2 separate regions of the Homo sapiens genome follow, and region 2 is linked to region 1. The links come from fine-mapping of genetic effects on gene expression. Tissue or cell type: whole blood. Region 1 holds a variant in brackets; the other region holds the start of a gene. All regions are shown on one strand. Distances are between the middles of the regions. Region 1 overlaps LOC107986023 (a long non-coding RNA gene). Region 2 holds the start of ATP2C1 (ATPase secretory pathway Ca2+ transporting 1).

Region 1 (8,338 bases):
CGGAGGGAGGTGGGGGGGCTCAGCCCCCCGCCCGGCCAGCCGCCCCGGCCGGGAGGTGAGGGGCTCCTCTGCCCGGCCGCCCCTACTGGGAAGTGAGGACCCCTCTGCCCGGCCAGCCGCCCCATCCGGGAGGGAGGTGGGGGGGTCAGCCCCCCGCCCGGCCAGCTGCCCTGTCCGGGAGGTGAGGGGCTCCTCTGCCTGGCCGCCCCTACTGGGAAGTGAGGAGCCCCTCTGCCCGGCCAGTCGCCCCGTCCAGGAGGGAGGTGGGGGGGTCAGCCCCCGGCCTGGCCAGCCGCCCAGTCCGGGAGGGAGGTGGGGGGTCAGCCCCCCGCCTGGCCAGCCGCCCCGTCCGGGAGGTGAGGGGCGCCTCTGCCCGGCCGCCCCTACTGGGAAGTGAGGAGCCCCTCTGCCCGGCCAGCCGCCCCGCCCGGGAGGGAGGTGGGGGGTCAGCCCCCCGCCTGGCCAGCCGCCCCGTCCGGGAGGTGAGGGGCGCCTCTGCCCGGCCGCCCCTACTGGGAAGTGAGGACCCCTCTGCCCGGCCAGCCGCCCCGTCCGGGAGGGAGGTGGGGGGGGACAGCCCCCCGCCCGGCCAGCCGCCCTATCCAGGAGGTGAGGGGCGCCTCTGCCCGGCCGCCCCTACTGGGAAGTGAGGAGCCCCTCTGCCTGGCCAGCCGCCCCGTCCGGGAGAGTGGTGGGGGGGTCAGCCCCCCGCCCGGCCAGCCGCCCCATCCGGGAGGTGAGGGGCGCTTCTGCCCCGCCGCCCCTACTGGGAAGTGAGGAGCCCCTCTGCCCGGCCACCACCCCGTCTGGGAGGTGTGCCCAGCGGCTCATTGGGGATGGGCCATGATGACAATGGCGGTTTTGTGGAATAGAAAGGCGGGAAGGGTGGGGAAAAAATTGAGAAATCGCATGGTTGCCGGGTCTGTATGGATAGAAGTAGACATGGGAGACTTTTCATTTTGTTCTGTACTAAGAAAAATTCTTCTGCCTTGGGATCCTGTTGATCTGTGACCTTATCCCCAACCCTGTGCTCTCTGAAACATGTGCTGTGTCCACTCAGGGTTAAATGGATTAAGGGCGGTGCAAGATGTGCTTTGTTAAACAGATGCTTGAAGGCAGCATGCTCGTTAAGAGTCATCACCACTCCCTAATCTTAAGTACCCAGGGACACAAACACTGCGGAAGGCCGCAGGGTCCTCTGCCTAGGAAAATCAGAGACCTTTGTTCACTTGTTTATCTGCTGACCTTCCCTCCACTATTGTCCTATGACCCTGCCAAATCCCCCTCTGCGAGAAACACCCAAGAATGATCAATAAAAAATAAAAAAAAAAAAAAAAAAAAAAAAAAAAAAGAAATGATTAAGCTTAATGAGGAAGCATGTTGAAAGCTGAGGTAGGCTGAAAGCTAGGCCTCATGCATCAGTTAGCCAAGTTGTCAATACAAAGGAAAATTCTTGAAGGAAATTAAAAGTGCTACTCCAGTGAACACACAAATGATAAGAAAGCTAAACAGTATTTTTGCTAATGTGCAGGAAGTTTGAGCGGTCTGGATACAAGACCAAACCAGGCATACCATTCCTTTAGGCCAAAGTCTAATTCAGAGTAAGTCTCTAACTCTCTTGAATTCTGTGAAGGTTGAGAGAGGAGGGTTAGCTGCAGAAGAAAAGTTTGAATATAGCAGAGGTTGGTTCTTGAGGTTTAAGGAAAGAAGCAATCTCCATAACATAAAAGTACAAGGTGAAGCAGCAAGGAGTGATGGAGAAGTGGCAGCAAGTAATCCAGAAGACCTAGCTAAGATCATTGATGAAGGTGGCTATACTAAATAATAGATTTTCAATGTGGATAAAAAGCCACAGGCTGACTTTCTTGTTTGGAACCAGTACAGCTGTTGACTTTAAGTTGAAGCCAATGATGATTTATCATTCTGAAAATTCTAGGTCCCTAAAGAATGATGCTAAATCTACTTTGCTTGTGCTCTATCAATGGAACAACAGAGCCTGTAGGACAGCAGATCCATTTATAGCATGGCTTACTGAATATTTTAAGCCCACTGTTGAGACCTCAAAAAAAAAAATAGATTCCTTTCAAAATATTACTGCTCTTCACAGTGCAGCTAGTCACCCAAGAGCTCTGACATGAGGTAAAAGGAGAATAATGTTTTCATGTCTGCTGTCTGTTCTGCAGTCCATGGATCAAGGAAGAATTTTAACTTTCAAGTCTTATTATTTAAGAAACACATTTCATAAGGCTATAGCTACCATAGATAGTGATTCCTCTGATGGATCTGGGCAAAGTAAACTGAAAACTTTCCAGAGAGGATTCACCATTCTAGGTGTCACTAAAAACATTTGTGATTCATGAAAGGAGGACAAAGTGTCAACATTAACAGGAGTTTAGAAGAAGTTGATTCCAACCCTCATGGATGACTTTGAGGGATTCAAGACTTCAGTGGAGGAAGTAAGTACAGATGTGGTAGAAAGGGCAAGATAACTAGAAGTGGATCCTGAAGATGTTACTGAATTGCTGCAATTTCATGATAAACGTTGAACAGATGAGGAATTGCTTCCTCATAAGAAAACACAGAAAATGTTTTCTTATGATAGAACCTATTGCTGGGTAGATATGCTGTGAACATTGTTGAAATGATGACAAAGGATTTAGAGTATTTTATAAACTGAGGTGATAAAGCAGTGGCAGGGTTTGAGAGGACTGACTCCAATTTTGAAAGAGGTTCTACTATGCTACTAAACAGCATCAGACAATACAGAGAAATCATTTGTGCAAGGAAGAGTCAATTGATGCACCAAACTTTATTATTGTTTTATTTTAGGAAATTGCCACCGCCACTTCAACTTTCAGCAACCACCGCCCTGATCAGTCAATAGCCATTAACGTCAAGGCGAGATCCCCTACCAGCCAAAATATTATGACTCATTGATGGTTCAGATGATCATTAACATTCTTTAGCAATAAAGTATTTTTTAACTAAGGTATATACATTTTTTTAGACTTGCTATTGAATACTTAATAGACTACAATACAGTGTAAACATAAATTTTGTATGCACTGGGAAACCAAAAAATTTGTGTGACTTTCTGTATTGTGATATTTGCTTTATTGTGGTGGTCTCAAACCAAGCTCACAATATCTCTGAGTTATCCCTGTACATTCTTATTCACTCTTAGAATTGAGTACTATTGGCATGATCAAAATATTTTTAGATGAAAGCTTAATGCTTCTTGTAAACAGTGCTGAAACTTTAGCATGCATTGGAATCACCTAAAGGACTAATTAAAACAGAATGCTGGGCCCCACCTCCAGAGTTTCTAATACAGTAGGACTGAGGTGGGGCCCAAGAGTCTGCATTTCTAAAAAAATTCCAGGTGGGAGGGACCACACTTTCAGAACCACTGTTGCAGATCATTTGATGATGTATATTTCCAAAATCAAAGCTGACAGGGCTTGTCATACCTACTCAAGAATAGCATGTATGCTGCTTAGAAGATGGTAAGTCATTGTCAAAGCCAGAGGGATACTAATGATGACTTAGAGTTTCACAGGTTCTTAATTGACCATTTTCATTCACCTTGGCTGATGCCTAGTGTTACTTAATGCTTAGTAAGAAATCTTTAGGCCAGGGGCGGTGGCTCACCCCTATAATCCCAAACTTTGGGAGGCAGAGGCCGGCGGATCAGCTGAAGTAAGGAGTTCCAGACCAGCCTGGCCAATGTGGTGAAACCCCATCTCTATTAAAAAGTACAAAAATTAGCCAGGCGTGCTGGCGCGTGCCTATAACCCCTGTTACTCTGGAGGCTGGGGCTGGAGAATTGCTTGAACCTGGGAGGCAGAGGTTGCAGTGAGCGGAGATCATGCCACTGCATTCCAGCCTGGGCAACAGGAGTGAAACTCTGTCT[CA/C]AAAAAAAAAAAAAAAAAAATCTTTAAGCAATGTCTTGGCCCTAAGAATATAATCTAAAATATGTTCTTATGTTTATATCATCTTCGATAGCTGATTAAAGTGATGTAGCAACTGAGAATTTCAATTGTTGATTTAAATCATGGAATATACAAAAAGATATAATCCTTGTTAGGTCCTGCATACTTTCTAAAGCCATTATGAGGTCTTAATTAAAAGAAACAAAGAATAAAACCCTCATTTTTTCCCTAGCCCTTACTCTGCTTATTGTTTAAACATAATTATAAAGACTCTGAATAACAAAAATTTAACTGGAAAGATGAAATCAGTATTCTTAATACTACTTAGTGGCTTTTAGGTTTAGGACATATGTTTAATATGTATTCTGTTGATTTTTCAATAGATCATGTTAATTAACATGTCTCAATTACCTATTGAATAATGTCTCTAAAATGCCTATCTGTGATTATTATTCATGAGATTACACTCCCATTTTACCAGTACTATGCCTATCTGTGATTATTATTCATGAGACTACACTCCCATTTGAGGAGTACTTTTCTTTTCTTTTTTTTTTTTTTAAAGATGGGGTCTTACTCTGTCACCCAAGCTGGAGTGCAGTGGCACGAAATCGGCTCACTGCAACCTCCGCCTCCTGGGTTCAAGCGATTCTCCTGCCTTAGCCTCCCGAGTAGCTGTGATTACGGGCACCTACCACCACACCTGGCTAATTTTTGTATATTTAGTAGAGACGGAGTTTCACCATTTTGGCCAGGCTAGTCTTGAACTCCTGACCTTGTGATCTACCTGCCTCGGCCTCCCAAAGTGCTGGGATTACAGGTGTGAGCCACTGCGCCCAGCTTGAGCAGTACTTTTCAACTCTGAGAAGATAAACCCAAGGGATTCTAGAAGAGGGTCTGCTTGGAGAATAATTTCTCCAGTAATGGTATCTGAAGGTTGAATAAAAACAAGTGAATAGATGTAGATATTGACTAAGAGTGACTAAGAAAGACAGTTACCTTATTAATTAATACAATCTTGAGTGTCATCAAATTAGCTATGGGGCATATATCCTACACTCAGAAATTAGGCACTATTAAAGTTAAAGGGGGCCACACTGAATTGAAAGAGGCAAGAATTTAACAAACAAAATGATAAACTACAAAAGGTAACTAAATAAACAGAGCAGCTTCTTATATATTCTCCAATAAGGCATTGTGGAAACATTGAGGGATGGAGGGATACCCAAGCCAAGATGGGTATTAGACTGCTAACTTTGACATTAAACACTGAGAAATTCTTGAGCAGGGAGCTTCCTTTGTATGAGTCTCATCTTCATCACCTTTAAGAAGCAATTAATGAAATCTAGTCTGCTTACTTCGCAATGTTTTGAGCATTAAATTTAATTATATACAAATATGTACTTTTGGTGTCTGTTCAGTGAGAATTGATTCTCACTTCCCTAAAAGTAATTTAAACGTTTTAATCAAATGTGTAATGTTGACATCTTTACCTTTCCAAGTACTTTTGTACTTTTCCAGGGTTAAAATAACATTTTTGTCATTTAAATGAGGAAAAAATATAAGTTTTTTAAAAACTCAAATGTCATAGCTTTTTAACTGTTCTAATTGTGTCTGCTAATAGAAACAAGTTGATGTGCAAACCACAAAATAATAAATATTTTTGCCTAGCTTTTGGGAAAAAGAAAAGACTATAGTATACTTTAAGTAAGTGTAAATTTAGTTTCATTTTAGCAATTCCATAGTCGAATCTGTCACTAAGTAATCATTAGTTAAAGAAAAAAAATCTAGCCAGGCACCGTGGCTCACCCCTGTAATCCCAGCACTTTGAAAGGCTGAGGTGGGCAGATCACAAGGTCAGGAGTTCTAGACCAGCCTGACCAACATGGTGAAACCCCGTCTCTACTAAAAATACAAAAATTAGCCCGGCATGGTGGCGGGTGCCTGTAATCCCAGCTACTCAGAAGGCTGAGGCAGGAGAATCGCTTGAACCCAGGAGGCAGAGGTTGCAGTGAGCTGAGATTACACCACTGCACTCCTGCCTGGGTGACAGAACGAGACTCTGTCTCAAAAAAAAAAAAGAAAAAAAGAAAAAGAAAAGATAAGAAAAAAATCTAGTGCCCAGGGCATGCAACTATATAAGTAAAAATTCTAAAAGATCATCAATGTTTAAGAATAAAATACAGTCAGTTATATAATTTTAAAATATTTCTAATGAGTGATAAGGAAAACTTGTCAATGGAATTTCTGAAGTCAATAGCCAATTTTTAACTTTATCTGCTAATATGGCAATTATTTAACTTAAAAAACAGACACACTTCTTATTCAGTTTTTGGACATCTTATTCTGTAACTTCCTATTGATTAACATCGCCTTTAACATTTTAAGTACTTGTCGTAACATTTTATCATTTGAATAATTCATATTGTATTATACTCTTCACTTTTATAGGAACAATCATCAACCAACATTTTAACCTATTAATCTAAACTAAATTTTTTCCTCTCATTTAATCTATCAATTAAGATTCTTCTGATTGTATGTAACAGAAAATGTAGTTCATTTATTATCTCACATTAGAGGAAGTCTAGTGGTAGGGCAGGCCCCAGAGTTGGTTTATTTGTTAGCTTAATTATGTATTAAAGGACTTGGCTTCTTCGAGTCACTACTTTGCCATTCTTAGTATTGTCTTTTCTCAGGGGAAGGGTAGAAGGAGGGATAAAAAGGTGGCTGCTGTACTTCCAAGCATTCAGAATCATTGAAAAGTCTTGCTAAATCAGACTGCTGCATCTAATCCCCAGAATTTGATTCAGTAGGACTCGCCGGAGTGTGAGAATTTGCATTTCTAATAAATTCCCAGGTGATGCTGATGCTGCTCATAGTAAAGCCACACTGAGAAATATTAACTTAGACTAATGATCTTGGAAACGAATGGATTTTTTCTTTTCTTTTTAGTTCACATGTAATAGTTGTATTTATTTATGCAACACAGAATGATATTTTGATACATCTGTACTATGTGTAATCATCAAGTAAGGGCAATTAGCATATCCCTCACCTCAAAAATTTATGATTTCTTTTTGTTGGGAACATTCCAAATCCTCTCTTCCAGTTTTTTAAAAATATGCAGTAAATTGTTGTTAACTATACTCATCCCACAGTGCTATAAAACACTGTAATGTATTTCTCCTATCTAGCTGTAATTTTGTATCCATTAACCAACCTCTCCCTATTCCTCCCCTCCAACTACATTTACCAGCCTCTAGTAACCACTATTCTACTATTTACTTCTATGAGTTCAACTTTTGAGCTCATGTATGGGTGTGAACATGTGTTATTTATCTTTTTGTGCCTTATTTATTTCACTTAACATAACATCCTCCAGGTTCATCCATGTTGCCATGAATGACAGGACTTAATTCTTATTTATAACTGAATCGTTTTCTATTGTGTATATATACCACATTTTCTCTATCCAGTCATCTGTTGATGGACTTGTAGTTTGATTCCATTATCTTGGCTATTGTGGATAATGCTACAATAAACATGGGGGTGTAGATACCTCTTCAATATACTGATTTGCTTTTCTTTGGATAGGTACCCGGTAGTGCTGAATCACATGATAGTTCTATTTTTAGTTTTTTGAGGAACCTCCATACTGTTTTCCATAACGGCTGTACAAATTTACAATCACACTAATACTGTATGAGTTTCCCTTCTTCTGTATCCTCACTGGCATTTGTTAGTTTTTGTCTTTTTGACAATAGTCATTCTAACAAGTGTGAGGTGATATCTCATCGTGGTTTTGATTTGCATTTCTCTGATGATTAGTGATGTCGAGTGTTTTTTTTTTTTATGTACTTGTTGGCCATTTGCTTTGAGAAGTGTCTTTAGATCATTTGCCCATTTTTAAATCAAAATATTTGAGTTTTTTTTGGAGTTATTTTTTGAGCTGTTGGTTTTTTTCAGTTCCTTGTATATCCTGGATATTTTGTCAGGTAAATAGTTTGCAAATATTTATTTCCATTCTACAGGTTGTCTCTTCATTTTGTTGATGATACTCTTTGTTGTGCAGAGGCTTTTAGTTTGATATAGTACCACTTGTCTATTTTTATTTTTGTTCCCTGTACTCTTGAAGTCTTACCCATAAAATTTTTTCCTAGACCAATGTCCAGAAGCATTTTCCCTGTTTTCTTCTAGTAGTTTTAGGGCTTTGTGTCTTACATTTAATTATTTAATCCATATTGGGTTCATTTTTATATATGCTGAGAGTTAGGGGTCTAATTTAATTCTTCTTTAATATGAATATCCAGTTTTCCCAACACCATTTATTGAAAAGGATGTTCTTTCACTAGTGTATGTTCTTGTCTTCTTTTCTGAAAATTAGTTGGCTGTAAATAGTTGGA
Region 2 (8,338 bases), 22 kb after region 1:
AACTTTTTTTTTTTTTTTTTTTTTTTTTGAGACAGTTTCTTGCTCTGTCCCCCAGGCTGGAGTGCAGTGGCATGATTACAGCTCACTGCAGCTTTGACCTCCTGGGCTTAAGCAATCTTCCCACCCCAGCTGCCTGAGTATCAGGGACCACAGGTGTGTGCCACTGCACCCAGCTAATGCTTTTATTTTCTGTAAAGACAGGATCTCACTATGTGGTCAAGCCTGGTCTTGAACTCCTGGGCTCACACAATTTTCCTGCCTCAGCCTCCCAAAATGTTGGGATTACAGGTGTGAGATGCACCAGAAACCCTTAAACTTCTTAAAAATCCCTTAAGTCCTCTTGGTTTTACAGGAAAGTAGGAGCTTGGATTTTAGTTTGATCATAGGAAACAAGTAGATTGTTATTCATTCAACAAAAAATATTTATGATAAACATTTTTCAGGCTATCCATTTATTTAATAGGTCTTTATTACATATTTACTGCTGTCAAATGTTTTGGGGCCAGAGGTGAATTATGCTAGTTTGGAAACTAGGTGGAATATTATCATTTAAATGGATACCTTTGTATCTCAAAACAAATCCTGTAGTTTATATAATTTGGAATATTGTATGTCTGTTTTCCATGGAAATGATGAAGTTCATTGGTCATGGTACTCTTGGGTCATGGGACTCACACTCACTTTGCTCTTACCTCTTTCTTATTTTCACATGCATCCCATCGACACTCATGTCTAATCCAGAAGACTGGTAGTATATAAGATCCCAAATATTACCACTGGCTCAGAATCTGAGCCAATGAATGGAGAGACTATGTCATACTTGAAATAAACTTCTTTAACAATAAAAATTAAGAGTATAAGTTCTCTCATTTCATCTCAGTTTCATCAAATATTTCATGTTTAAAATGCTAGCAAGTGTGAAAGAGGCTATGGAATTTTGTGAGTGATAAAATATTTGTAGAGTACTTGGGGATCTGGATCTGGGTGCTATTAAAACCAACCAAACACAAGTAGCTCATATGAGTCCTTCAATTTTTATTCTTGCTTCCAACTTTTAATCTTCCAGCACTGCCAAAACATGGAACTAGGCAGATTTATAGCAATTCTGGTAGATGTTTGTTAGGAACTGATTTCGTACAACACTCTTGGCAATAAAACTATAGTTTTCTAAACTTGACATTTAGCATGTCCTTTATCTTATAAGAAGAAAAATACTTCTGTTGTTCTGTTGGAGTAGGTTAGCTTATAAAAATAAAGTGATGCATCTTTATATGTTTTTAACGTGTCCAACTTTGCCAGGCATGGTGGTTCATGCCTCTAATCCCAAGCACATTGGTAGGCCGAGGCAAGAGGATCTCTTGAGCCTAGGAGTTCAAGACTGCAGTGTGCTATGATGGCATCATTGCACTCCAGCCTCAGCGACAGAGACTCTGTCTCTTAAGTTAGTAAGTAAATAAATAAAATGTTCAACTTAAAATAAAATTACAATTTCTTTTCTAGCAGCTAGGTGAAATTTCTTAACTATTAACCTCTGGTACTTTAAACAACATTAAAACAGCCTTTAAAAGAAGACATTAATTAATTGAGGAAAGATTTTAAAATAATTTTTTCCAAGTTTTAATTTTTAAATCCCTAAAGAACCACATATTCTTGTACCATCCAGGTTTATAAAAATGCAGCTATCAAATTTGATATTAAAAACAAGATACCGCACACCCTTTGTGGAATAAAGCACAGTATAAAGAAAATTAGAATGTCATGACCATTCTTCTTCAATCTTTCCCATTTGTAATATTTCCCCCAAGCGGAAAAGCCTGACAAATTTCCCTTTCTTGCACGTGACCACTTTTTGCATCAGATGCATTTAATTTTGTAGGTTAAATATTCAGGACAAAAGGAGAGTAGAAAGAATTTTTAGAGCTTTGATTTCTATGGAAGCAATAAGCTGAAACTTGGAAATAATATGTTTCATTGCCATCAATCCCATTGTAGCTAGCTAACACTCCAGGGATTTCCTTGATTCTCTCTATAATAATCTTATACTTCTATAGTGCTTATAATTTGCAACCTGTGTTCACTTACTTTATGAGATTCTTACAAAAATCTTTTGAAAGAAGGCTAGTGTGTATGTATATGTGGGTGTATGAATATACATATATATGTGTATATGTTTGTCTATACATATACATATGTGTGTGTATGACATATATATGTATATAGTCATCCCTCATTGTCCACAGGGGATCGGTTCCAGAACCCCCTCAGACACCAAAATTTCCAGATGCTTAAGTTTTTTATATAAAATGACTAATTGGTCAATTCTTCTTGGTAAAGTTGATCTTGATCTTACCAGTTTCTTTTTTGGCTTAGTAATAGGAACAATGATTTTCATAATTTAGGGGACCAAAAGTAAAATTTCAGTTTAAGTCATTTTAGGAATAAACCATGGAGCTATAAATCTTTTGGAGGAGTTATAGATTCAGTGTTAATGCTAGAGTATTGCAGTATATTAATACAACAGATAGTTCTGAAAAGTTGCTTTAGAAAAATGTTTCAGCTAAAGTGACCCAATACCAAATTCTGTACAGTTACCCTCTATTTTGTAAATGCATATGTTAATATCAAAGTATTTATATTGTGTAATTTCCTACCTTAGGTGCTTTTGTTTTTAATATAATGCTGTTTCAAGGTCGAATATGTACAGTAATAACTGTTACAAATTGATTACGAGAGATCACAATCATTGTACAAATCACAGGCTATGTCATTGTGTAGACAAAAATCACTGACCATGCATGCCAGAGGTGGATCATAAATAGTAACTCCTAAGACTAGAAATCTACTTGATATTTTTATGGGTTCATCTTTAAAAGTGACCTCGCTGAATAAAAGTTCAATATTTCTTAAAAGAAAGGTAAATCTAAAAACCGTCCAGAATTTTCGATCCTAGTCTAGTACCACTTACTTGGGAACAAATATAGAAGCACAGGCAACCCCGTCCGTTAATTTGGCTCCGTCATTGTGCAGACAAAAATCACTGACCATGCATGCCAGAGGTGGATCATAGTTAACTCGTTAAGACTAGAAATCTACTTGATAGTGATTTTTATGGGTTCATCTTTAAAAGTGACCTCGCTGAATAAAAGTTCAATATTTCTTAAAAGAAAGGTAAATCTAGAAAGCTGTCCAGAATTTTCAATCCTAGTCTAGTACCACTTACTTGGGAACAAATATAGAAACACAGGCAACCCCGTCCGTTAATTCTGATGTTGAACGTGTGGTTAGAGAGCACACTGCGATATGTTACAGGACCTGAGATAAAAAGCAAATTTGTAAAGTGTCTAAGTGTTGATGGAGAAAAACACATCTAGCATATACGGAAATTTTCTTTTGAGTTCTCTGTAGGATGATCACCAACTCAGTAGGTGAAGCCCTGCCCTCTAGTGGTTATGGGTGTGAGAGGACTTCTGTTCAACATTATATGTCTGGCTCACCACGGTTTATTAAAACCAATCGTTCATTAAAAAGCACTTATTAGGGGTCTGGGTAAGATGCCGAGCAAGTGAAATGTTTACGTGTGAAAAGGCATTGACACTGGACAAAGGTACAGCTGCTAAAAGAAGTGCTCGTTCATTGGCTTCGACAGCTGTACGACTGGTTTCTAATTGCTGTTCCAGCCTCTCCCCAGTTCCATATACCACAAACGAATGAAAAAGATTAGCTCTCCCTGGAGCTCTCTGAGGCTGAACCTTGCTCTCTCATTACACATGGTAACTAAGCACACCCCTTAAAGAATTTTGGGAAGTCGCCCCGCGATTACCGGCTCCCCCAAGAACCAAGCAGTCAGTGCAGGGTTTTGCAAGTGAGAGTGCGAGACTCGGGAGGCTGCTCACGGTGCTCCAGTCCCTGGCAGGAGCATGGACACCTCGCCCCTTCCTTCCGTGGGCCTCAACGTTGCCTGCTGAGATTGTGACTGCCACCCCGACGGGAGCAGCTTCCCCTACAGACTTTGTAGAGAGCGCTTAAACGCCTCGGGGACAGCGGCCATGACTCTCAGCTTGGGCCGACCCCGCGGCCGCCCCACGGGAATGCGTGGCCGACACGGGGCGTGGGCGAATCTCCGACCCTCGCGTTCAGGGGGTGCATATAAACGGGCGGACACCGTCCCTGGGGTAAGGGAGGCGCCAGCAAGAACAAGGCGGGCCACCAACCCCGAGCGACCTCCTACCGGACGGATCCAAACCCAAACATTGTCCATTCCGGGCCGAAGTCTCGGCCTTCACTTCACTTCCGCCTTCCCAGCCCGTGAACACGAATGCGCCTGCGCGCACCTCTCTCAGCGGAAGTAATAGTGACAAAGCTGGGTTCGCGGCTGGCCCAGGAGTGCGGGGCGCGACTGGGCGGCCGGCGGCGGGGAGGGGCGGAGCGCAGGAGTCGGAGGCGGGAGCAGACCAGCACGGCCTCGCGGAGCCGGCCCGGCGGACCGTGACGGGTCCCCTCACCTCCTCTTCTCTCCCCTCCCCGCCCGCCCTCTCTCCCTCCCTTCCTCCCTCCCGCTCGCTTCTTCTCACGCCGGGAGCAGGCTCCCGCCTCGCACCGCTGCCCCGCGAGCAGCTCCTCTTCTCCCGAGGCGCGCGGGGCGCCCCCGCGAGCCCCGCGGCTGAGACCCCGCAGCCTGGAGGAGGGCTGTCCGGGGCTTTGGGTGGGTACCAGTATTACCTCCTGCCCCCATTTCTAGAAACTTCCAGGTTCTGAAGGAAGGGGAGGTTCGGGTATCCCCTGGATGGGGGGGCATCTCTAGGGCGCCGCCCCGCTGGCGTGAGCTGGGGACGTTGCGGGCACACGACGGGGCGGGTGCGGGATCTTGGGGAGGGGGGCTCCCGAGATAGTGGCTGGGCGGGGAACTCCTTCCTCAGCCTCTCGTCAGCGCCGCTTCTCCTGGTTTCTCTTGCAGATGCTGCTGCTAGGGGTGGTGGGAGCAGCCGTGGGACGCGTGGCCGGGAGCGGGGGTGACAGCCTGGGATTCCGGGGGCTTCTCTTCCTTGTCCTCCTCCTCTCCTCTCTATTCCCAGTGTGGCCGTGGCTGACACTAAAGACTTTGTAGCCATCAACCCGAGTGCAGTTTCGATGGAAAATGAAGGTAAAGGCCCCTGGCCGACCGGTTGCAACGCGGAGTTGAGGGTGTGGTGGTTTGCTTTTAAGTTGTCTTTGTTTTTCCACCTTTTTATTTTCGTGAGCTTATTTATTTACTGTGTATGTGAAGTGTCCAAGGATTTGCTTACTTAGGGTATCCAGCTTTTATTTTGGTAACATGGGGCATTTGAGAGATTGAGGTTCTGTGGGTGACTGAGCTTGATTCAGCTTTCTTGAGGAATTCCTGCTCTCTTCAGCTTAGGGAATGAGAGGGAAGTTTTCATTTCAGATAGCGTCTGTGCATGTTTAAATAGCTATTTGAAAGGAATTACTCGAGGGGAAGTGGAAATGGGGGACAAGGGGATGGGGCTGCATCTCTGTATATTGGCGTTTCAAGCCTCGATGTGGTGTGTGGCAGGATTCATTTATAAGAAAGCAAGCCATGTTTTATTATGTCTAGCATTGGGGAAAAAACTCATTATTTTTCAATTCACAAAAAAAACCCAGTGAATTTAATGAAATGTTATGAGATGAGTGCTTTTCTTAAAGTTCCACCCTATTTCAAAACATCATTTAGGAGGCTGACAGCGGAACCTGTTTGTTCACTGTACACTTTGGACACATTAGATCGTCATTCACATGTTACATGATCCCTTTGGCCTCGTTAAAATATTTAATGCTTTTCCTACACAGCACTGATTATTTTTAAAATTGTTGAACAACTGTGAATAAGTGATTTTTTTTCCCCCTCCTGAAACAACACTTATTCTTTGGACTGACTTCTGACTTGTGCGTGATCATTTTTTTTTCTTCTGCCTTTAACCGGGCTGCAAAATACTATAAAAGATACTTAACAAATGACAGTTTTTTCCTCTGGTATAATTTGTTTTAAAAAATATGTGTCTGGTATAAAGGAGCTGCAGTCTTGCTGGCTGCTTCTAATTTGTTTTTCCATTGTTGAGAATGTAAGCTTGATTGTCTGACTAGGACTAGTAATTTTGAAATGGGTGTTTCTTATAGATGCAGTAATGTGTTTTGCTCTCTGAGACCTCTGGGCTATGTAGGGAATATGATGAGAGGCATGATTATATTGACAAATTTTACTCTGGATGGATAATTGGCGGAAGACATTTTCTGAAATACTAAAGTGTATAACTGCAGAGGAGTTATACTGTCTAATTGGGTCTTGAGAAACATTTGAAAGCAGTGATGTTTTTGGTGATAAGGAAAGTCACTTTTCTGAGCCTTTTTCCTCTCTTTTAAGTTTATTGATTTAAGAAAGGCAAATCCATTCTGCACATGAGACAAAGAATGTTAAATGCATTCATATACTTGTTTCTTGGTAGAAACATCTTAAATAACTTCTAACATTTAATGTATGTTTATGAGCTTGTTTTCAGAATGGTACCAGATTTAAGAGGGTAGCCTAAAGTAGGTGGATTCTTTCATGTTGCTTTTGTTTCTTGATCTCTCAGGAGGAAGAGCATGAGTAATAAAGCCGATTCTCATTATCTACTGAGGTGGGAGGGGGTGGTTGTGAGATAGGAGAATGGTGCCTACTTGTGTCTGTCTCTGTATTTTGTGGCCAAATATGAATTTTGTGGTTTCATAGTAAAAGATTATACAGTTCTTAAAAACGTGTGGGGTTTTCTGTCCCGTTATTCTTGACCATCAAGAGACCATTTTTGTCAGTTTCTCCCTATCGTCACATTTTTTTTTATATATAAACAGTTTGAAGAAGAGCCTGTATATAGCCTAGAAATTTTCAAAAGTGACTGACCATATTAAACTACATAGATTGATACCTGTGCCTTTTTATTGTTCACTTGCCTTTTTGTAGTTTTCATCCTTCTTTGATATAGTGTAGTATTAACAATTTGGAGGTGTGAAACAAAAATGGATTCAAGTCTTGACTAACTTGTCTTGAACCACTTAAAGCTGTGTGATTTTAAGTAAATTACGTCACCTTTCTGAGCCTGTATTTCTTCATCTATAAATTGGGATTGATAATCTTTAACTCACAGAATTGAGAGGATTAAATGAGAAACCCTGTATAAATTCTCTTGTGAGGTAGGAATGATAACGTTTAAGAGCTTGAGTTGTGGTGGAACCATGCAGACTGATTTGAATGCTGGATTCGTCGCTTACCATTTGGCTTTGTGCATATTAAAGTTTTCTGTGCTTCCGTTTCTTCATAAAATAAAGATAATGATAGAACCTACCTTATGAGGTTGTTGTAAACATTCAAACAGTATCTGGCACATAGTAAGTGCTCGGTAAATGTTAATTATAAATTGCCTAGCTGAATGTTTGATACATACTAATAGGCCACCTGGCATTAATATTGTCATGACAGTTAAATGTTGGAAGGGGGAACAGTAGTAGCCAAATGCTCAAAATGAAGTTGTCATTGTTAGTTGAGGGATAAGTGGAGTTAGGTAAGGAATTTTCTATGGCATTAGTGCTTTTAAGCCTACAGAAAAAGTTAGGGCTCTACCAAGAAGCCAGGGTCCAGTACAGAAAGAGACAGGTTTGGATTTGAAGCCCGACAAGTAATGTTTTCCTCTCCTGAAAAATCTGACAAGTTACTAGGCTTCTAAGCTTTCTCAGCCTCTAAGTTATCTCATCTGTAAATGAGATAATGCCCTCTTGCAAAGTTGATGTGAGTAATAAATGAAGCCGCCAGAGCAATGTTTGACATACAGTTAACTTGGATGAATTGAGTGATGCTGCTGTTCCCTAGTAAGAGTATCCTCCAGTAGGTATGCAGGTAGTTACATTTGTGGGTGTGAACAGTGTAGAATTGATAGTGTTTCCCTAGAGCATCAGCATGAAGGTTTCTTAGGTAGCTTACAGTGGTGTGGGGAGGAAATGGTTTCATCCATGTGTTGGTTCCTTCAGCAATGGTGGTATTTTCTTTGGCACTTCGGTTTAGATTCTTCTGGACTTTTTTCCTAGGGCCCATTTAAACTTTCTCAGCAAAGCTTGACCAATTTTTAGCTGTAGACTCCAGGATGTTTCATGAACACTTTCTGCTTGTCACTAGGAACGTTTAAAATGTTAATTTCCTGGAATTTTTGGACTACTTAACATTCAGTCGTGAGTTAGGATTTTATCCAGATCCTTTGGAATTTGTTTTTACATGTTTATCACAAATCTAAACAGATCCCGCTTAGGCATCTTGAGATGCACAAGTAAACAGCTC

Evidence for each region.
Region 2: ATP2C1 starts here. The variant in region 1 is fine-mapped to the expression of ATP2C1 in whole blood (INTERVAL, PIP 0.98).

The regions. Positions count from the first base shown.
Region 1 is chr3:130,868,109-130,876,446 of GRCh38, forward strand. The region is part of intron 1 of LOC107986023 (a long non-coding RNA gene); the gene reads right to left. It also overlaps a transcript of ATP2C1 not described here. Among named protein-coding and RNA genes, the nearest start is that of ATP2C1, 22 kb to the right of the region's middle. RefSeq lists an enhancer at 688-1,576. The variant CA/C (reference allele first, on the strand shown) is at 3,914.
Region 2 is chr3:130,889,636-130,897,973 of GRCh38, forward strand. ATP2C1 (ATPase secretory pathway Ca2+ transporting 1) reads left to right here and starts at 4,449. Exons shown (of 28, transcript NM_001378687.1): 1 at 4,449-4,702; 2 at 4,955-5,140. The coding sequence starts at 5,135. It overlaps LOC107986023 (a long non-coding RNA gene), which reads right to left and starts at 4,286. Exons shown (of 3, transcript XR_001740492.2): 1 at 3,221-4,286. RefSeq lists an enhancer at 4,004-4,223 and a silencer at 4,314-4,703.